Homo sapiens: one gene and its partners. The protein of the gene in region 1 purifies or fractionates together with the protein of each later gene. This does not show direct contact. Each region holds a gene or a part of one and is shown in the gene's direction. Other genes may lie near its edges. The genes, in order: SLC12A5, CXADR, NUP155, CUX1, KIF2A and VEZT.

What was found.
Region 2: the proteins of SLC12A5 (region 1) and CXADR purify together in Homo sapiens (affinity purification with mass spectrometry; one large-scale study listed by BioGRID and IntAct). This does not show direct contact.
Region 3: the proteins of SLC12A5 (region 1) and NUP155 purify together in Homo sapiens (affinity purification with mass spectrometry; one large-scale study listed by BioGRID and IntAct). This does not show direct contact.
Region 4: the proteins of SLC12A5 (region 1) and CUX1 purify together in Homo sapiens (affinity purification with mass spectrometry; one large-scale study listed by BioGRID and IntAct). This does not show direct contact.
Region 5: the proteins of SLC12A5 (region 1) and KIF2A purify together in Homo sapiens (affinity purification with mass spectrometry; one large-scale study listed by BioGRID and IntAct). This does not show direct contact.
Region 6: the proteins of SLC12A5 (region 1) and VEZT purify together in Homo sapiens (affinity purification with mass spectrometry; one large-scale study listed by BioGRID and IntAct). This does not show direct contact.

What each region holds. Positions count from the first base shown.
Region 1 is NC_000020.11:46,046,215-46,049,714, forward strand, and holds part of SLC12A5 (solute carrier family 12 member 5), read left to right. Parts: intron 1-123; coding exon 124-222; intron 223-1,239; coding exon 1,240-1,359; intron 1,360-1,766; coding exon 1,767-1,871; intron 1,872-3,407; coding exon 3,408-3,500. UniProt on the Homo sapiens protein: Mediates electroneutral potassium-chloride cotransport in mature neurons and is required for neuronal Cl(-) homeostasis.
Region 2 is NC_000021.9:17,558,043-17,561,542, forward strand, and holds part of CXADR (coxsackievirus and adenovirus receptor isoform 1 precursor), read left to right. Parts: intron 1-933; coding exon 934-1,089; intron 1,090-2,659; coding exon 2,660-2,782; intron 2,783-3,295; coding exon 3,296-3,434; intron 3,435-3,500. UniProt on the Homo sapiens protein: Component of the epithelial apical junction complex that may function as a homophilic cell adhesion molecule and is essential for tight junction integrity.
Region 3 is NC_000005.10:37,308,607-37,312,106, reverse strand, and holds part of NUP155 (nuclear pore complex protein Nup155), read left to right. Parts: intron 1-1,363; coding exon 1,364-1,555; intron 1,556-2,534; coding exon of another isoform or gene 2,535-2,585; exon of another isoform or gene 2,586-2,684; intron 2,685-2,839; coding exon 2,840-2,978; intron 2,979-3,500.
Region 4 is NC_000007.14:102,191,626-102,195,125, forward strand, and holds part of CUX1 (Homeobox protein cut-like 1), read left to right. Parts: intron 1-2,216; coding exon 2,217-2,265; intron 2,266-2,450; exon of another isoform or gene 2,451-2,580; intron 2,581-3,500. UniProt on the Homo sapiens protein: May be involved in intra-Golgi retrograde transport.
Region 5 is NC_000005.10:62,309,206-62,312,705, forward strand, and holds part of KIF2A (kinesin-like protein KIF2A), read left to right. Parts: intron 1-3,500. UniProt on the Homo sapiens protein: Plus end-directed microtubule-dependent motor required for normal brain development. May regulate microtubule dynamics during axonal growth. Required for normal progression through mitosis. Required for normal congress of chromosomes at the metaphase plate.
Region 6 is NC_000012.12:95,276,807-95,280,306, forward strand, and holds part of VEZT (vezatin), read left to right. Parts: intron 1-3,500. UniProt on the Homo sapiens protein: Plays a pivotal role in the establishment of adherens junctions and their maintenance in adult life.

The sequences.
Region 1 (3,500 bases):
ACAGCATGATCTGGCCACCTCCTGACTTCCTGTCCCCTTTCCCCCTTTCTCTGCCCATGCTGTTGTTTCTGTTTCTGCCTCCCTTTGCATCTCTGTCTCCCCTGGGGCCTTCCTGTGTTCCAGGTTCTTCCTGATGTGCTACATGTTTGTGAATCTGGCCTGTGCAGTGCAGACGCTGCTGAGGACACCCAACTGGAGGCCACGCTTTCGATATTACCACTGGTGGGTGCTCTGTCCCCACACTTCCACTGAGCCACTTGCTCACCTCCACGCCAATCCTCATCTTACTCCAGTCCATCCCCTCTGGGTCTAAGGACCCCAAACCTGAAGAGGACATCCTTTTTTCTCCAGCTTTTGTTGACCAACTCACATGAGGAAGGTCCCCGAGAGGGTCTCCTAACAATCATAAATAATAACATAGCAGCATCATAAGCGGTCTCAGCTGGAATCTCTCTCCTGTCCGTGATGCCCAATAGCTCACAATGTAGCAGGGAGGCTGGAAGTCAGCTGGCCAGAGTTCAAATCATGACTCTGCACTTCCTAGCTGTGAGATCTTGGGCTGATGATGTAGCTTCTCAGAACCTCAGTTTCCTCAGCTGTGAAATGGGCATGATAGCTGCACCTGCCTGTGGGTTCTTGTGAGGACTACAGTACATGGCAGATGCTCATTGCACAGAGGCTGTAGTTCTCTCATCATTTTCCTCTATGGCTCTTCATCCTCACAATAGGCCCTCGGGGGCAGACAGAGCAGAAATGATCATGCTTGTCCTACAAAAGGAAACTGAGGCCCAAAGAGGGCAAGGGACCGGCCCAAGGTCCCCCAGCAAGACTGTGACACAACTGGGCTAGAACCAGGGCTGCCCACTCCTGTCTGGATGCTCCGGCTTTGCTGGTGGCCTTCTCCTGGGAGGACCCGTTTCCACTCCCCTGAGACCCTGGCCTCAGAATGCACCTGGCCAGGCCTGTCTGGCAGGGTCTGAGGAACAGGGACAGGGTGGTGTGGGGTGTCAGGAGTTGGGCAGGGCATTGGGTAGTGCCCTGTCTGTGGCTTCTCTTTCACCCAGAAGATCCCATATCCCCGTAGTCCTCATGGGGATGATGGTGTGAGTTCCCCTAGACCGGGCTGTCACCTCCCAGGTCTTGCCCATGCCCTGCCCCATCTCCCTCTTGCTTTCTAAGTCCCAGCTTCAGCAACAGCCCTGCTGGGGCTCAGAGGCTGGGTCTCCCCACCTTGTCTAGGACCCTCTCCTTCCTGGGCATGAGCCTCTGCCTGGCCCTCATGTTCATCTGCTCCTGGTATTATGCACTGGTAGCCATGCTCATTGCTGGACTCATCTACAAGTACATTGAGTACCGTGGGTGAGTGTGGGGAGTGGAGGTTGGGGTGGCTGGGGAAGGCTGAAGGGTGGTGGGAAGGAGAGGGAAGGGGTCATGAGGGATTGGGGTGGTGGGGGTGAGATGAAGCAGGGAGTGGGAGAGGATGGGGCTGGAGTAGAGGGAGAGGGTGATATGGGATGACATTGGAAGATGGGGGGTGGGAGCAGAGGCTTTGAGAAATGGACAGGAATGGTGAGAGAATGGATTTAGAAGTGATTTTCCAAGGAAACTTAGCCAAGGCTTGGTTGAGTCTGTTGGCAGGAGTGATACACATGTCCTTTCTGAGCCTGAGAGATGGCTCTGCCCTGGGGTAGCTGGTGCAGTGTAGATGGTTCTCCCTGCCCCCTCCTGGCTTTCTGCTCTCATGTGATCCACTTCCCGGCTCCCAGGGCAGAGAAGGAGTGGGGCGATGGGATACGAGGTCTGTCTCTCAGTGCGGCTCGCTATGCCCTCTTACGCCTGGAGGAAGGGCCCCCACACACCAAGAACTGGAGGTTAGTGGTGAGGGCACGGGTGTGCATAAGAGTGTGTGTGCATGAGTGCAAGGCTCAGGAGACAGGGGGAAGGGAGCAGGGCCTGACTTATCCTGCTTGCTTTGTTTTGCTGAGTCGTGCCCTAAAAGCCCAGCCTTGTCTGATTCCTTCCCACCTGAAACACTGAGGCTGAGCTGAGTTCCAGACATTTATGTGGGTATGTAAATGTCCACATACCCCACCATGCTAGCCTCCTGAGCAGTCATCCATTCATTCATTTCATCATTTCCATCATTTTTTCATAAAACATGAATGCCTGATGTATGGCAAGTCCCCTTCTAGTCTCTGGGGATGTAGGAAGCTCACAGTTTTGTGGAGAAGACACACATGGGGACAGACAAACATCAGATCATGTAGCATTTGCTCTGAGACAGGTGGAATCGTTCCCTTTGAGAGTTATAGGGGCTCTTAGGCATCTCTAGATTAATGACAATTCATCCATTTTATTCACGTGAAAATCAGGGATGCCGAGCGCGGTGGCTCATGCCTGTAACCCAACAGTTTGGGAGGCTGAGGCAGGTGGATCACTTGAGGCCAGGGGTTTGAGACAAGCCTGGACAACATGGCGAGACCCCATCTGTGCTAAAAATACAAAAATTAGCCAGGCATGGTGGCGTGCACCTGTAGTCCCAGCTACTCAGGATACTGAGGCAGAATAGCTTGAACCCAGGAGGCAGAGGTTATAGTGAGCCGAGATTGTACCACTGCACTCCAGCCTGGGTGACAGAGTGAGACCCTGTCTCAAAAAAAAAAAGGGGGAAATTGGAGGTCAGAGAGGATCTCACAGGTCACAGAAGGCAGACCTGGAGATGGAATCCTCACACCCCACCTCTTAGCCCTGGGTGCTGCATGCCCAACCCCTCACTCATCTCCCTGTGTTTCACCTTGCCAAGAGTAGAGCCTGAAACCCTGACTTAGGTTAGGGCATTGTTGACTTGTCTTGGCTGAGCCCAGTTGACTAAACTGGGCTCCCAGAACCTGGGGCTCTATATTATTTATCTGTGAATTCCCAAATGCTCAGCACATGGTCTAGCCCAGAGTAGGTGCTTAGAGAATGCTACGAAGTTGATAGGTGGTTGGAGGACTAAGACGGCTAAATGACTAAGGAAAGGGATGCATAAATAGATGGGTAGATGGATAAGTTTATGTACACGTGGGCGGGCAAAAGCATGAATCGATGGATGTAGGAATGGATGATAGGTAGGTAGATGTGTGGATAATTGAATGAATAATGCATGTATCAGTAAAGAAATATGCATATGAGTGGATGACTGAAGGATAAAATAGGTGGGTGGGTGGTTGAATGGGTAGATAGGTGAGTGAGGTGAATGGAGAAATGGGTTGATGGGTAGATGAATGGATGGGTGGTGAGGGGTATAGGTGGATGGGACAGATGGTTATAGAGGAGAGATGGCTAGATGACCTGGTGGTGGGTGTATGGTGTGTGGATGGTTGGTTACATGGTATATGGATTATGTGACTCTGCACACTCTTCAGGCCACAGCTGCTGGTGCTGGTGCGTGTGGACCAAGACCAGAATGTGGTGCACCCCCAGCTGCTCTCACTGACCTCCCAGCTGAAGGCGGGGAA
Region 2 (3,500 bases), on another chromosome or scaffold:
AGTTACCCAGAAACACCTGGAATATAACCTCAGATTTCCTTTTTTTTTTTTTAATTAAATATTCTTTTTTACACATGAATTTCCAGGCTGTGAATATCTTTTTGATTCAGGGTCTGGTTCTGTCACCTAGGCTGGAGTGCAGTGACATGATCAAAGCTTCACTGCAGCCTCAAAATCCTGGTCTCAAGTCATCCTCCTACCCCAGCCTCCCAAGTAGCTACGACCACAGGCACACATCACCACACCCAGCTAATTTTTCGAAGTTTTTATTATGACAGAGTCTCGCTATGTTACCCAGGCTGGTCTCAAACCCCTGACCTCAAGTGATCCCCCCACTGTCTTGGCCTCCAAAGTGCTGAGATTACACTATGCCCAGCCCAGGTTTTCTTTTTTGTAGCCTGCTCTTTGGATGGATTTGAGGTGATGTAAATGCAGAATGCTAGTTGTTCCTTGCCACACTAAGTGTTGTTAGTATTGTTGATGATAAACTGCCTGATTGTCAGGGTTATGGCGCCTAGAGGGATGTGACTTGGTACATACTGCCAGAGGGTTACATGTCAGGCATGGGGAAGAATAGCTAAGGAATGGGAGGGGGAGCTTCCTTGACTCTCAAGTGGTCTTGCTGAAAAAAGCAAGTGCATCATTCTTGCTTTTTTTCAGGTGTGCCCCATGAAATGGACAGGCACCGAGCTATGCCTGAGATATTGCCATATCTACTAATGCAGTGGCTGCTTGTCTGAGCTTATTCTTTGCTGTTTTGTGTCAGATAAAGCTGAATAAACTGATGTTGATCACTTACTGTGGTCTTTCATTCTTTTGTGAATTCTGAACCCAGAACCAACTGATAATGAGTCAGTGGTTGTGTACAATGCTGTATTCATAAAAGTAAGTTCCATTCTCTTATGTAAATTTATAATTTGTTTTCTCTTTCAGTTAAGCCTTCAGGTGCGAGATGTTACGTTGATGGATCTGAAGAAATTGGAAGTGACTTTAAGATAAAATGTGAACCAAAAGAAGGTTCACTTCCATTACAGTATGAGTGGCAAAAATTGTCTGACTCACAGAAAATGCCCACTTCATGGTTAGCAGGTACTGCTGATAATAGTATTTGTACCACATGCCATTGATTTGGACTAAGATCTAGTAGGGGTGTGTGTGTGATTTGAGATAGGGCCTTGCTCTGTCACCCAGGCTCACTGCAATCACGGCTCACTGAAGCTTCAACCTCCTAGGCTCAAGTCATCCTCCCACCTCAGCCTCCCAGTTAGCTGGAACTACAGGTGCATGCCATCACACCCTGCTAATTTTTTTTTTAAAAAATGTGTAGAGACAGGATCTCCCTGCGTTGCCTGTGCTGGTCTCAAACTCCTGGGCTCAAGGAGTCCTCTTTCCTTGGCCTCCCAAAGTGCTGGGATTACAGGCATGAGCCCAGGCATGTGCCCAGCCTGCTTGTATATTGTAGATTCCCAGATGCTTTCTTTCCCTTTTCTACATAGAATAATCAGGATTTCCATAGGAATTATTCAGTGTTTTATAATATCAATTTAGTGTCATATATTATAAATGAAGAGCTATTCTATGATTTCATTTTTTTAGGATATTAGTTACTTTGGTACTTTTTTTTGGGTTTTTTTTTTTTTTTTTTTTTTCCGAGACAAGGGGTCTCGCTCTGTCACCCAGGCTGGGCGTGCAGTGGTAGAATCTCGGCTCCCTGCAGTCTTCACCTCCCAGGCTTAAGTGAGCCTCCCACTTCAGCCTCCCGAGTAGCTGAGACTACAGGCATGTGTCACCACACCCTGCTAATTTTTGTATTTTTTGTAGACATGGAGTTTCTGCATGTTGCCCACACTGGTCTCAAACTCCTGGGCTCAAGCTCTCCACCCACCTCAGCCTCCCAAAGTATAGGTGTGGGCCATTGCGCCTGGCGAATTTTTTTTTTTTAATTGATGAGACATGTTCATGATTACAACTTAGATGGTGGCTAAAGTATAGTAAGAGTTGGCTCTTTAGTGTTTTGCCTAGATTGAAAATATAGTAATTTACCCATGGTGTGTCTGTAAATTAAAAGAAAACCCGTGTGACACTAACTAGAAAGTTACAAATTGGCCAAATCTGCTCACCTATTTGTTATAATTGACTTCTTAGTTCAAACTGATGACCAGGCTCCACCCCGCCATCCACTGCATCCTGGTCTTTAGTAGGTTTTCTCTCTGCCTCTCTGTTTTTCAAACTAAGAGACCAATCTGGGAGTCCTCTTCTGACTTCCTTTTGTATGTTTCTTCCATCTAGGGGGGAATAAAATAGGTTTTGTATGTTTTCCTGCTGCAGGAAAGATCCTTTGTGGAATGCGGTAGCGTTTATAGTCTTATGTGCCCCAAGATGGGTTTGCAGCAGGTACACAGTGGACCAGCACCCCTGCTCCAGCTGAGGCTGTGTGCTGCAGGGGATCATGGTTACTTTCACCTTGATACATGTGAACTGGAAGCATGATTGAATTCTGGAAACATCTGTGTGGCTCAATGCCAGTTTGCTTGCATCCAGCCTTGGTCTGTCTTGCTTTTAACTGGATTGTTTAATTTGGAGAGGACTATGTTTACTAACACCTGATAACAATACATACTATAAAAATGAGTTTGTTTTCTTTTTCCTCCTTCCATAGAAATGACTTCATCTGTTATATCTGTAAAAAATGCCTCTTCTGAGTACTCTGGGACATACAGCTGTACAGTCAGAAACAGAGTGGGCTCTGATCAGTGCCTGTTGCGTCTAAACGTTGTCCCTCGTAAGTTATCTTCTTTCTGTTGGTGGTTTTGTTTCTGTTATCTTTATACCACCTCCTTTAGTTCAGTCAGCAAGTGTGTATTAAGGACAAAGGGACACTGACTTTGATCAGAACACTGTGGTTTGATTATTAGCTTTTCTAGAAAAATACATTTTATTAAAAAAACTTCATAATTGCAATGATATATTAAGAAGGTAAGAGTTGTCAAATCAACCCTTGTACCATATTTAGCTGTTATAAGTATGAGTAGCTTAGAACATTCTTATATGTTAACCAAGATAGCTTTGAATATTAAAATCTTTCAGACAGGTTTTATCATTTTAATGCTTGGAATAGATTATACAGTTCAGAAGACAGTTCTTTTTATGAATTTTTCCCCCGGATCAAAAAGACTAAATAATTTGTCTTAAAGTTAACACGTGATGAAATCAATCTAAAAATGTATAGCCTACCTTCAGTATCTATACATGTATATATGTATATATTTTTTACTATTAATTCTTCTTATTTTAGCTTCAAATAAAGCTGGACTAATTGCAGGAGCCATTATAGGAACTTTGCTTGCTCTAGCGCTCATTGGTCTTATCATCTTTTGCTGTCGTAAAAAGCGCAGAGAAGAAAAATATGAAAAGGAAGTTCATCACGATATCAGGTAATTAAGTGAGACAGGAGTTGACTGATGTATACCAAATATATGTCATTTCTCTAAAGCATTCGT
Region 3 (3,500 bases), on another chromosome or scaffold:
ATAATCATTGCTGGAATTTATTATTTCATTTAGGATTACAAAAGGGTAATATTTATTTATTTGTTTGTTTGTTTTTTATTTTTTTTGAGACAGTGTCTCATTCTGTCACCCAGGCTGGAGTGCTGTGGAGCAATCTGAGATCACTGTAACCTCCACCTCCCGGGTACAAGCAGTTCTCCTGCCTCAGCTTCCCGAGTAGCTGGGACTACAGGCATGTGCCACAACGCCTGGCTGATTTTTGTAGTTTTAGTAAGAGACCGGGTTTCGCCATGTTGGCCAGGCTGGTGTTGAACTCCTGACGTCAGGTGATCTACCTGCCTTGGCCTCCCAAAGTGCTGGGATTACAGGCATGAGCCACCATGCCCGGCCAAAAGGATAATATTTTAAATCTGTGATTCCTTCCCCAGTTACTAGCTGCAATTCTGTAAAAAAAAAAAAAAAAATTCTTTTTCCTTGTCCTGTATGGATATTTCATTACTCTGAAACACTTACTTTTTGACTCTCGTATACCATTTTTCAACGTTGGAAGGCAGTCTCCTCATTCTTTCCACTAGTGTCCAATGAATAGTGTGGCTTTTGTTGGTGGTTTTGTTTCTTTTAAATACATACTGTTTTTTATTTTTAAAAATTCAAGCTAATATATTTAATTATGAAACTTATCTTTTTCATACCAAGTAGAATAATAATTTTGAGTTTTATAGAGTGATAAATATATTGTAGGTAGGTTTTTATCCTGGGTATGTTTTTGTGATCCATCTTCAAAGCTCTCTTCCTTACATCACCAATGGCATGCTCAATGAATGCAAATTAAAGATTTGTTCAAGAATTTTAACACAGTTTGGGTATTTCCTTGAATTTAGAAAAAAGAGATAGCAGTCACATCACTAACAGAATCTTTTACTATAGTATAAATCAATACTTTAGAGCTTCATTTGGACAAGCAGATTTGTTCACAATACAGATTAAACTCCAATATTATTATAAGGCCTAGAATAATGGAATTCTAACAGTGTTTAGGAAGGAGTAATATGTAAGCCCAAGATTTTCAAATATAGCCAAGTGATTGTTTTTTCCATTTTATAACCAAAGCCAGGAGATCTGACTCTAGTTTTGGCTCTACTTAAGCTTTACTTTTCTCATTTGGAAAGTGAGAGTTTTGGACTAGATCTACTGTAGGTTCTTTTCCAACTCTCTATGATTTTATGTAAGTTCGCAAAAATTTGTTTCTACTAATTAGTATATTTTCGCTTTTCAATTATAGAGTCTATTAATATTTAGGTTATTTTAATTTATTAAAATAATTTCATTATGTTTAGAAATATGGTATTTCTATAATTGTGATAGAAAAGTTTTATGCTCCTAGGAACTTCAAGAGCAGCTGAAGATCACCACCTTTAAAGATCTTGTAATCAGGGACAAAGAACTCACAGGGGCATTAATTGCTTCTCTTATCAACTGCTACATCAGAGATAATGCCGCTGTTGATGGCATTAGTTTACATTTACAGGATATCTGCCCACTTCTATATAGCACTGATGATGCAATTTGTTCTAAGGTATGATACTTTATTACCTATTTCATTGTTTGTTATAAGAGGTATCATGTATGATGAACCATCTTGTTTCACTTAATATAGGACCTCAGTCAGTTAGATCTCTTAACCTCTCCTAGCCTCAGAATCCTCATCTAAGAAAGGGGTTGGAATATGTGGCTTCTTAAAACCAGTGTATACTCTTTTAAGCTTAGCTTTTCTTTTTAAAAATATTTTTATTTATTTATTTGACACAGGGTTTCACTCTGTTGCTTAGGCTGTAGTGCAGTGCTGTGATCATAGCTCACAGCAGCTTCTAAGTCCTAGACTCAAGCAGGCCTCTCATGTAGCTAGGGGCTACGGGTGTGCACCACTACACCCAGCCAATTTTTTTGTTTTTTATAGAGACAAGTTCTGATTTGTTGCACAGGCTGGTCTTGAACTCTTGGCTTCAAGTGATCCTCCTGCCTCAGCCTCCCATAGTGCTGGGATTATAAGTGTGAGCCACCATGCCCAGCCCTCCTTTAAGTTTTTCATAAAGAATATTCTCTCTTTTTTTTTAAGACTGAGTACGATCTCAGCTCACTGCAACCTCCACCTCCCAGGTTCAAGTGATTCTCCTGCCTCGGCCTCCCAAATAGCTGGGATTACAGGTGTGCACCATCACACCTGGCTAATTTTTTATATTTTTGGTAGAGACAGGATTTCACCATGTTGTCTAGGCTGGTTTTGAACTCCTGACCTCCGCCTGCCTCAGCCTTGCAAAGTGTTGGGATTATAGACATGAGCCTCTGCGCCTGGCCCATAAAGAATCTTTGATAGTGTTTCTAGGCCATATTAAAAAACCAAAGGTGAGAAATTAAGAAAAATCACTAAATTTAGAAATTAAGGAAATTTAGGGGATAATTTATCTCCTTAGCTTAAGGAAAAGTACTAAAACTTCAAGTAAATCTTTTAGTGAATTAGAGTTAATGGGGGCATTTTTATTGATCCTTTCCTACAGGTGGAAAAAATAAATAAATCAGTGTCACATGGACTGCCTGCTGCCCAATAATGTATTGACTAGGCAAGAGAATTACCAGACAAAAGTTCTCTTGCTTAACATATTTGGGAGAGGAATTAAGAATAGCTAGGAATCTTTGGTCAAAAACTTTTCTGCCTAAAATTAAGAAGTAAGTTTGTAGAGTTGTTTTCATTTTAATGGTAATAACCATATATAAATTTAGACATAGACTAAAACTTAGTTGACAGCATCATCTGTCTGCTTGATTTTATATATTTTTAAGTTCTTGTTATCTCCTCTTCTAGGCAAATGAGCTTCTCCAGCGTTCCCGACAAGTTCAAAATAAGACTGAAAAAGAAAGAATGTTAAGGGAATCATTAAAGGAATATCAAAAAATTAGCAATCAAGTGGACCTTTCCAATGTTTGTGCTCAGTATAGACAAGGTGAGAAATAAAATGTTTCTTGTATCTTTTACTCAACTCAAAAGACAAACAATAGTGTATGAATGAAGCAAGCTAATGATGAAAAGCCACTTTCCAGATGCAAATCTTCTTTCAGCATCAGAGGCCGAGTGAAAGGACGTAGGAATGTGGTATCATTGTGTTGCAATATTTGATGACTACACTGACCTGCAGAAGCTGTAATGTTCTTTCTATTTTTTGAAATGTACTTTTTTTTTTTTTTTTTTTTTTTTTTGAGAGTCTCGCTCTGTCAGCCAGGCTGGAGTGCAGTGGCACGATCTCAGCTCACTGCATCCTCTGCCTCCCAGGTTCCAGCAATTCTCCTGCCTCAGCCTCCCGGGTAGCTGGTATTACAGGCGCACGCCACCACGCCCAGCTAATTTTTTATTTTTTTATTTTTTTATTTTTTTTATTTTGAGACAGAGTCTTGCTCTGTCACCCAGGCTGAAGTGCAGTGGTGCGATCTCAGCTCACTGCAAGCTCTGCCTCCCAGGTTCACGCCAT
Region 4 (3,500 bases), on another chromosome or scaffold:
TTAATTTTGAGCCAGAGAAACTGCTGCGAAGGCCTTTGCCCAGCCTCACCCTGGGAGTTAGTCGTCGTCTTCATTGTCGTCTTCGTTGTCTTCTTCTTTCTTCCTCTCTTCTTCTTTCTTCCTCCTCCTCTTCTTCTTTCTTCCTCTTCCTCTTCTTCTTCCTCTTGCTCCTCCTCCTCCTCCTCTTCTCCCCCAACCCCCACGTTCACTTCATCCCCTGGGAGCTGAGGCTTCCAGGCTCCAGCCTGCAACACATACCGTTCTACTCCCTCTCATCCACAGCCTGCCGGACCACAGGCTGCCCCTACCCCCACTGAAGGGCTGCCACACCAGCCCCGCTTGTCACTGCATTTCTGCTAACTCTTTCTGTTGCGTCCGCACATGACAGGCCCCACCACCATGTGCACATCTGGAAGCCCCACTCAGGTGGCTTCTTTGCCCAAATGCGCTCCTAGTTTTCCACTTCCTGGTGAACCAGCTGTGCTCTTGAGCTCTTGCCCGCGTCCCCTTCTCAGCATCGTCCCATTTCCACTTCCTCACCCCCACGCAACAGGGGATGCTGACCTCAGATCCTCATGCACTGCAGCACAAGACACCCTGTCCCTTCAGGGCCCTTCTCCAATGCTTGTTCATCATGACACTGAGACGTGGTCTCCAATCCATCAAGATCCCTCCTGCTGGGGTCCTCACAAGTTCTGTCTTAATGGACCACTTGGAGTCTTGCCTATTACCTGTAATGGCCTGTAAATTTCCTGGAGTACGGACCAGGAGTGGTTCTGATTCCCCACGGCAACAAGCGGATAGCAGGCTGCTGGTAAAGATCTGTAGAATAGATAAAGAGCCACGTGGTCTTTTATTACATAATCCTAAAGAAAATAGGAAACGAAGGACAGGATTCCATCTTAAGAAACCCCTTTCAGCTGGGCGCAGTGGCTCACATCTGTAATCCCAGCACTTTGGGAGGCCGACAGATCACCTGAGGTCAGGAAACCAGCTTGGCCAAAACCGTCTCTACTAAAAATAAATTATCCAGGTGTGGTGGCTCACACTAGGGGGACAGAGGCCGAAATTGTGGCTGCAGGAACATGGCGAAGGTCCGGTTGACTCTGCACCTGCGAGTCGTAAATCTCACGGTCCAGCCAGCCTGCTCTGGGTCTCTCTCTTCCATCCTTGGTATTTCAAAGAAACACTTGCAGCTCCTTCAAAGCCACATAGCCTCACTTCCCCTCTTCTCCCTGGTAAACTCAGCAAAAAAGGGACATCCACAGCAAAAGGAACTCAAGAAACAGTAATAATCCTGGGGACCTGGACTCACTGAGACAGCCCAGAGACCGTAGTGATCAGGGTGCGGCCCTTTTCAGTGCCATTGAGAACAAGGGAGGGAGAAGTCACCTTCTCTTGCCACATCTTTGTCATTGCACTCCTTCCCCAACCTGGGGCTGCAGAGAAGGTCTGCCCACCTGGCTTCTGAGTCATCCAAGTCTAGGAGGTTGCTCTTTGCCTATGTCCCCTGGTCCCCAGGTAGGTGCCAGTTAGGAGTGAGGTGTGGGCAGTGGCCGCCCTGGTGGGTTCCCCTCTCTCTGGCTTCTCCTTACAACTTTTTCCTTCCCTTTAAGCTTTACAAATACATTCCACTTGCAACAATGTTATGTCTGTATTAAACTTTAAAATTATACTCTGAACAGACCTGGTGTGATTCCATATGGAATGATTTACATGCTAGGCAAGAAACTTTTGCCAGCCAACTGCTAGTTGAATAGTTATTCTAGAGACATTATCAGATTCTATTACTGCCAGGGAAGTTGTTAAAGTTGACAGTTCTTCGGTTCCTGGAGAGCAGGAAATTGTAATGTTAATGCTTATTAATGTGGCTGTTGTCAAAGGTATAAGTAGAAAATAATCACTCTGGTGGCTCATGCCTGTAATACCAACACTTTGGGAGGCTGAGGCGGGTGGATCACTTGAGGTCAGGAGTTCGAGACTAGCCTGGCCAACGTGGTGAAACCCCGTCTCTACTAGAAATACAAAAATTAGCTGGGCATGATGGCACATGCCTGTAATCCCAGCTACTCGGGAGGCTGAGGTAGGAGAATCGCTTGAACCTGGGCAGAGGTTGCAGTGAGCCAATATCGCGCCACTGCACTCTAGCCTGGGTGACAGAACGAGACTCTGTCTCAAAAAATAAATAAAATAACCCCTCTGTTGTGCTCTTGCAGCATTCTGAAGTCCATGGAGTTTGCACCGTCCGAGGGCGCTGGGACACAGGTACGTGTCTCACCTCAATGGTCAGCACTAGCATCAGCCCCGCTGCTGGTTACCACTGGTCCCTCCGGCATATCCCATGATCCACTGTTTCTACGAGACCTCTCACTTACAGCCGATGAGTCATACTTCAAGAACATTTAACCAAGTTGAAGCAAATTATCTTTTTTTTTTTGTCTCCTTTTTTTCCATGTGTCCAAGGCATGAACCAGGCATAGATCAAAAGCCAAGCTGGGGATGAACAAGGGATTGCTTCATCCCTGACTGATAGGAGATGGGCACTACCAAAAAGCAAATTATCTTTAACAAAAAGAGGCAAAAAGAGAAAAGCTAGTGTTTTCCAAACTGGTAACTGAAGTGAAATTGTGATTTCACTTCAGCAGGTACTAAGAACATAAATAAAAAACAATTTCAGATTGTGTTTAAGAAGGCCAGGCTCAGTAGCTCATGCCTGTAATCCCAGCACTTTGGGAGGCCAAGACAGGAGGATCGCTTTGAGGCCAGGAATTTGAGACCAGCCTGGGCAATATAGCAAGACCATGTTGCTATTAAAAAAAAAAAAAATAGCCAAGTACTGTGACATATACCCGTGGTCCCAGCTACTTGGGAGGCTGAGGCAGGAAGATCGCTTGAGCCCAGTAGTTCAAGGCTATAGTGAGCTATGATCGCACCACTGCACTCCAGCCTGGACAACAGATTGAGACTGACTATTTTTTTTTTAATTGCATTAAAGAGCAGCCAAAAATGGATTGGTTTAGGAACTTTAGTTACATGCTGCCTCAGTAGAGAAGGTACAAGGGAAGGATGACTGTGGCCCAGGGTCATCTGGTGGCCAATTAAAATTGACATCCCAGACCAAGCATGGTGGCTCACTCCTGTAATCCCAGCACTTTGGGAGGCTGAGGTAGGTGGATCACTTGAGGTCAGGCATTTGAGACCAGCCTGGCCAATATGGTGAAACCCTATCTCTGCCAAAAATATAAAAAATTAGCTGAGCGTGGTGGCGCACGTCTGTAATCCCAGCTACTTGGGAGGCTGAGGAAGGAGAATCACTTGAACCCAGGAGCCAGAGGGTACAGTGAGCCAAGATCATGCCACTGCACTCCAGCCTGGGCGACAGAGTGAGACTCCATCTCAAAAAATTAAAAAATCAAATCAAATAAAATTGACATCCTAAGTGGAATCTGACTCCTGATGCCCAGAAGACAGCCAACATCTTTGTGGCTGGCAAAAAAAAA
Region 5 (3,500 bases), on another chromosome or scaffold:
TTCAGCCTATACCAGAAGTTCCCAGACATACAAGAGCTTTGTGTTCTTACATAAGTGCTACTAACCTAAAGCCACATTTCAAAAGCGGTTTGCCTATAAGAAATTAGGGAAGTCATCACAGTGTGTTATTATCCTAACCTATGGTCATGTATCTTTTTATGTGCCTCAGATGCATGATGGAGTTGGTGGAAGGCAGGAGATTAGTAGAGAACTTCGAAAGAACAGAAGGATCATTTGCATTGGACAGTAGTGTTTCACAATAGAAATTGATGTCTGGGAGAATGCCCCTCAAGCTTTCCCTTTTTCACTTTAAAGAAGCTTGTTTGCTTCCTCTCACTTCCATAACGTCTATATTGGATAAAACACTAGTGGTTATTATAACAAAAATAAACTTTGCAGTTGGAGGAACACTAATATCTGAGACAGTAGAAATGACATGAGTAAAGAAGGGCTGCTTCAGACCATTATTAACTGGTGACTTGATGTTTTTCTTTTGGCTTGCTGATGGCGATCCATGTCCCTATTTCAGACCACACTTTTCCCATCAGTGATACTCTTACACTAATAAACATATCCCAAGGGCAAACAGGTACACTAAAATGAGCTTATTCCTATCTTTCAAGACCATGATGAAAACTATCCTAATGAGTCTTCACTGATTACTAAAACCAGATGGCCAGTCAGCATCTGAATTCCTAAATCATTCTGTATTATTCATGAGACAGCATATTTCCTTAAGTATTAATGTTTGGGTCTGTAACTTTTTTTTTTCCACTCCTCTCAGCTCATACCTATGGGTACATATTCTTAATACTATGTTTTTAAACTGCATGGGGTAATGGGACTTACTAATAACTAATAATTCTTTTTTTTTTTTTTTTTGAGACAGAGTCTCGCTCTGTCAGTGGTGCGATCTCCGCTCACTACAACCTCTGCCTCCCAGGTTCAAGCGATTCTTATGCCTCAGCCTCCCAAGTAGCTGGGACTACAGGTGTGTGCCACCATGCCCGGCTAATTTTTGTATTTTTAGTAGTGACAGGTTTTTGCCACGTTGGCCAGGCTGGTCTCGAACTCCTGGCCTCAAGTGATCCACCCACCTCAGCCTCCCAAAGTACTGGGATTACAGGTGTGAACCACTGTGCCCAGCCTCTAATGACTCTTAAATTCCCTGAATGCATCTGTGTCATTACCCCCATTCCCACCCCCACTACTGGGATGTCTAGCAAAATTCCTTGCACATCGTTTTTGAATAAATCATACATTATTGGATTTTTTGTTTTCAAACATTTTAATTAATCATTAGAATGACATCTTAGCTGGAAGTGAAACCTTCCATCTGTGCTCCTCTGTACTGCTACCTCCCTACTCTGGCCCTCTACTTCCCGCTGGCCTGTTAGTCAGGAACTACAGCGTTAATTGAAATTGAGTGATCTGCTAAGGTTAATCTGACTTTTCTGGTTTTCTAAGGTTATCAGTGACAGGGGTTAGGCTTGGACTGCTAAGATTATTCTCTGCCACAGGAGATAACCTGGTATGAAATTGGACTGGTGTGTTTTCTTACATGTGTCTTCCTATTTTTCTGATTCAATTCCTTTCCCTTTTTAAAACCCACTGACTCTTAAAAAAACCTACAATCTTTCTGTCGTGTAGCTAGTTTGGTTTTTTTTTTCTTTTAGCTGTGCTGTTAACAGTTCTGTAGTAGCTGTGACTACCCTTTGGGGACTGGGGAAGAAATGGGAAATGTTGAACATTTGGAAGCTGCAGCTAATATGGGATTGTTCTTTGGGGGCGGGTCTCTTAGTCACAGTACTGTGACTGTATTGATACATGTAATCTGAAGAGAATCTTAGAATATTTCCACCAGAAAGGTTTTTGGAGATAAACTAGTTTTCATTTTTATAAATGTGGAAACTTGAGTCCCAGATCACCATAAGTGACTTATCTAGATTCATACAACTTGTCAATGGCAGCCAGGAACCTGACATGCTTAGCATAGAAATCAGACTATCAAGAACTATGACAGTAAAGGAGGAATTCTCTGTTATTTTGGAACCGTATACCGCTTTTTACAGCCCAGTCAAGATGTAGGAAATTGCTTCTTACTTCGGAGAAAGGCACCAGCGAGCAGTGTTACAGAGCTTGATTAGAATGATCCCTGGTAAGAAGTGCTATGTTACTACAAGTTCACCAAACCTAAAATTGTGGGAGGAAAGTATTCTTGTTTCTTAGTTAAGTATTGGTGTAAAGAGTTCCTTTTAACATCTGAAATCAAGAGGCAATTGAAGATTTCAAAGGACCCATCAGGAATTTTGGAGTTCAGGGCAGGCAAAGAAAATCTTTAGAAAAGATTTTAAATGGCCTAATTCTTTATATGCTTTGCCACATTTTTCTTCTGCTAGTTCATCTTTACACGTCACTATATAGGCTTCTGGAGAATAGCATGTGTAAATTTAAGTAATAAAGATGAACCATGTGGCAATACAGTTGTTCTTTAGGTACAATTATGTGATTGATTATGGGGGTGGGATGGAATAGGGGCATTTGTGACCTAATAGTTCCCTTTTCCCTGAGGACTAGGACGATAATGTTTCTGTATATGGATTTGTTAGGGCTTAATAGTTTTCCAAGTGCTTCAAGACATGTTAGCTAATTGGATCTTCACAGGAACTCTATGAGGTAAGCAGGATAGAAAGGTGGCAGATTATTGGTTTATAGGTGAAGAATCTGAGGTTGGATTATTTGCCAAGATCACATGGTTAATAAGGAGCATAGCCTGGGCCAAAGCCCGAATCCCTTCACTCCCAGCTCTCTAAGTGCTGCTGACAGATGTTTGCTGATTATGGTGTGAAGTTGTATACTTTAGTATTTCTTTCTGAGACATACAAACCCCTGTAGTAAAATTCTTTCCACTACTACCAAAGAAGCTCAAAAAACTTAAAATAGGCACTTATTGCTTCCAAAAGTACCACAGAAAGCCAGGAATCTGTATTCATTGCCTAGCCACTTGATTCTTATGACAAAGATTTTGAAACTCTGGGGAAAGGCTATGTGTCAACTTGTTTTATGTGTCATGATTGTTAAAATGCTAGAGAAAACAGCAAAGAGCCAGTTAAATCTGTGTCTGCTCAAATAAGACAAGGGGCAAGAGTGTGGAAAATCCAGAACAAGATTCCCTGAGAGATCATCTAGACCCCGTTCTTTCTAGTCAGAAGTATAGTTGTGATTAATATGACATTAATCTTTTGCAAAGTTTAATTCTTGGATTCAGCCATCTGCTTTAATTTTAACACATCTGTTTTGTAACCTAAAATAATTTTAAGGTGTTTGTTTATTTGTTTGTTTGTTTTGAGATTACGATTCTTAAGAATAGATACAAGTTTTAAACCTTGGATAAAACTAATTTTTATTCTTCTGGTTCAGTTGTAGAACAAATACAGGTTAAGTTGTCTTCCAGCTCTTTTAGATAAAGCAATATTAGTGGTTTTATAGTGCTAAGTGAA
Region 6 (3,500 bases), on another chromosome or scaffold:
TTTCTTTCTTTCCTATTACGTAAAATTTGCTTTGGCTTATTCCTACTCCCCTTCTAACCCATCTCAATAAATGGCACCACAAAAAACCTGGACACCATCTTTCTTGTCCCTCTTTTTGCCCACTCACATCCAGTCTGTTAGCAGATTCTTATGTCACTTCTACCTTGAAAATGTATTTTAAACCCATCCACTTTTTTCTATATCCACCCCCGCCCCCGCACCATCCTAGTCCCAGCCACCATGCTAGTCCCAGCCACCATCATTTCATACTTAGGCTGCTGCAGTACTTTCCTCAGTTATCTAAAGTTATTTGTTTCAGAATGCAACTTGACATGTAAAGAACCTTTTTAATGATTTATCCTTTGAATTTGTAATTCCCCTTCTACAAACTGCAGGAAATTATTTAAAACATAGTTAAACTTTATATACCAAGCTGCTTATTCACTTTGTGTTTATAATAGTGCACAATGGAACACTGCCTGAAAGTTCAAAAATAGAGGAATGGCTGTGTGAGTCATGCCAGAGCCACATGGTGAACCATTGTGTAGCAGCTACAGCTTGCCCGTGAAAATTCTGTAAAAACTTGGAGAAACATCTGTTGCCAGTGAAACAATCAGGATACATAAGTGTATATGCAATATGTCCACAACCCTGTTTAAAAAAAAAAATGAGGAGAAAATACCAAGATATATATAGCTACTCTTTGGGGTGGTGGGACTATAGATACTTTCACACCCTTTCGAATTTAATATCCTAACCTTGCTTTATTCTTTAAGGAAAATAAAGATTTTTTTCAAAGTACAATTTAAGAGATTCTTAATGTGGAAAATGGAGCAGACCTGTGTTTATATTTTAGCCCTGACTGACTAGCCATTTGCCTTTGAATAAGTTATTCTTTGAACTTATGTCACCTGTGAAAAGGAGTTACCATCCCTGCCTTATAAGGTATTAGATTAAATGAGAAGACATATTAAATACCTAGAACAGGGCTTGACATATAATGGGTACCCCCAAATGGTAATAGCTGTTATTCTTTAAGAAGGACTTGGAGAAAGAATTATAGTATTTCATTTCCTTTTAAATTACTTTTTGTTAACTCATCAAGATGCCTTGGAGATTTATTTCTTTATGCTGTTGATGTACTGTTTTTAAAAGCTTATTAAATCCTGAATTGTACTCTAGCTTAAGTATAGGCAGCAAAGAGAAGTTGTGGACCCTGTGGAGTCAGATTTTCCAGGTTTCACTCTAGCTCCGTTATTTGACTACTGTGTGGTCCTGAGCAAATCATTGTTTCTGTGTTTATTAAAATGGGATAATTGCAATGCTTGCCTCCAAAGGATTAGATGTTTGTCAGTTCAGTGCCTGGTGTAGAGTAAGCAATTAATGAATGTTAGCTGATTTTTAAAATTCTATCTGATATGGCCTGCTCTGAAATGTGAGACTTGTTCTCTGTTGCTGTATCCCCATCCTACCTTCCAACAATGGTGATTATAGCTAGATTCCTTTTGCTCACTCACAGTGTTTTACAAATCAAACTATAATAGTATTTTTATATTTCTTTTATTTTTACATATAACTAACCTGTAACCAAACTCAATGATTGTGTTACAGTTACCACATTTATCAGGCTCTGAAAGGAGCCTTATCTTGAGGAGCTCTATAGACTTTGCAAACTGTTGAAAACCCCTGTAATGTTCAAAGACTGTGTATTACCCCCTTCTGTAGTTACCACTGTATCGTTATTCAGATAAGAAATTTAAAAATAGATTTTGTAAGTTAAATTTTTAAAAGTGTGTTGCCCCCTCTAAAGAAAATACATTTTGGATTTATTTTTTATTGTTCCCGTATCTTCCCTCAGGAAAGTTTAGTGATAGTAAGTATTGCACCTTTAGAAAGAAAAGCAACCTCCAAATTGTAGCCTGAGGAGACATAAATAAAATACAGGTTGAATATTTCTTATCCAGGCGTGAGTCTTATCCAGGCCTGGCACCGTGGCTCACGCCTGTAATCCCAGCACTCTGGGAGGCCAAGGCGGGCGGATCAACTGAGGTTGGGAGTTTGCAACCAGCCTGACCAACATGGAGATACCCCGTCTCTACTAAAAATACAAAAAATTAGCCAGGTGTGGTGGTGCATGCCTGTAATCCCAGCTACTCGGGAGGCTGAGGCAGGAGAATCGCTTGAACCCAGGAGGCGGAAGTTGTGGTGAGCCAAGATCGTGCCATTGCACTCCAGCCTGGGCAACAAGAGCGAAACTCCGTCTCAACATAAATAAATAAATTAATTGATTAATTAATTTCTTATCCAAAATGCTTGAGACTAGAAGTGTTTTGGATTTTGGATTTTTTCAGATTTTGGAATATTTGCATTACACATTGAGGTTGAGCATCCCTAATCCAAAAATTTGAAATTTGAAATGTTCCAGTGAGCATTTCCTTTGACTGCCATGTTGGTGCTCAAAAAGTTTCAAATTTTGGAGCATTTGGGATTTCATTTCAAAGTTTTGGATTAGGGATACTCAATCAGTCCCTAGAACACAGTCCTTATCCCTCTCTTTTCCTTTAAGTTTTTAACTAGTTTTTTAAATTTATGAAGTCATCTGTTTCCTGCTCTAGAAAAAATAAATGCACACATTGTGAAATGCTTTAAATCAAAATTTTCTGTTTACCTATCAGCTATGGTTATCTCCTTATCCAGAGGAGCTTTCCTTATCCAAAGAACAAACAGGAAAAAAGAAATACATATTTCTGAGTTCTGGTTTAAGTGGGTAATGTGACAGTGATTGGATGACAAATTAGTCTTTAGAGACAAGGTCTTGCTCAGTCACACAGCTGGTGTGCAGTGGTGCAATCGTGGCTCACTGTAACCCTGAACTCCTGGGCTCAAGCGATCCTCCCACCCTAGCCTCCCAAGTAGCTGGAACAACAGTTATGTGCCACCATGCCTGACTAATTTTTAAGAAAATATTTTGTAGAGGCAGGGGTCTCACTGTGTTTCCCAGGCTGGTCTCCCAACTACTGGCCTCAAGTGAGCCTCCCAAAGTGCTGGGATTACAGGTGGGAGCCACTGCGCCTGGCCTTTAGTCTTTTCAAAAGCCGCAGTAAACTGTACCAACTTGATTCTTGCAGTTATCTTGACCCAACATGCTGGAATCATCCTTGTTAACTCTTTTTCTCTCAATACCAATCAGTCAAGAGATTGTGTTAGTTCTGCTTTCACAATGTATCCAGAGTCCATCTGCTGCTCACCTTCCACCACTAACCACCGTGGTCTCATTAATGCTTACCTGGAATATTGCAGTAACTTCCTTACTGGTTTCTCCACTTCTACTCTCATTTTCCTATAATCTCTCAACTCAGCAGACAGTATGGGCCTGTTAACGCATAAATCAGATTATGTCATGCTTCTGCTCAGAACCCTTCAGTGGCTCCCCATTGCTTACCTGGCCCCAGCCGTACTGAGCTTCTTGCTGTTCCATAGATCTACCCTGTGTGCTCCCA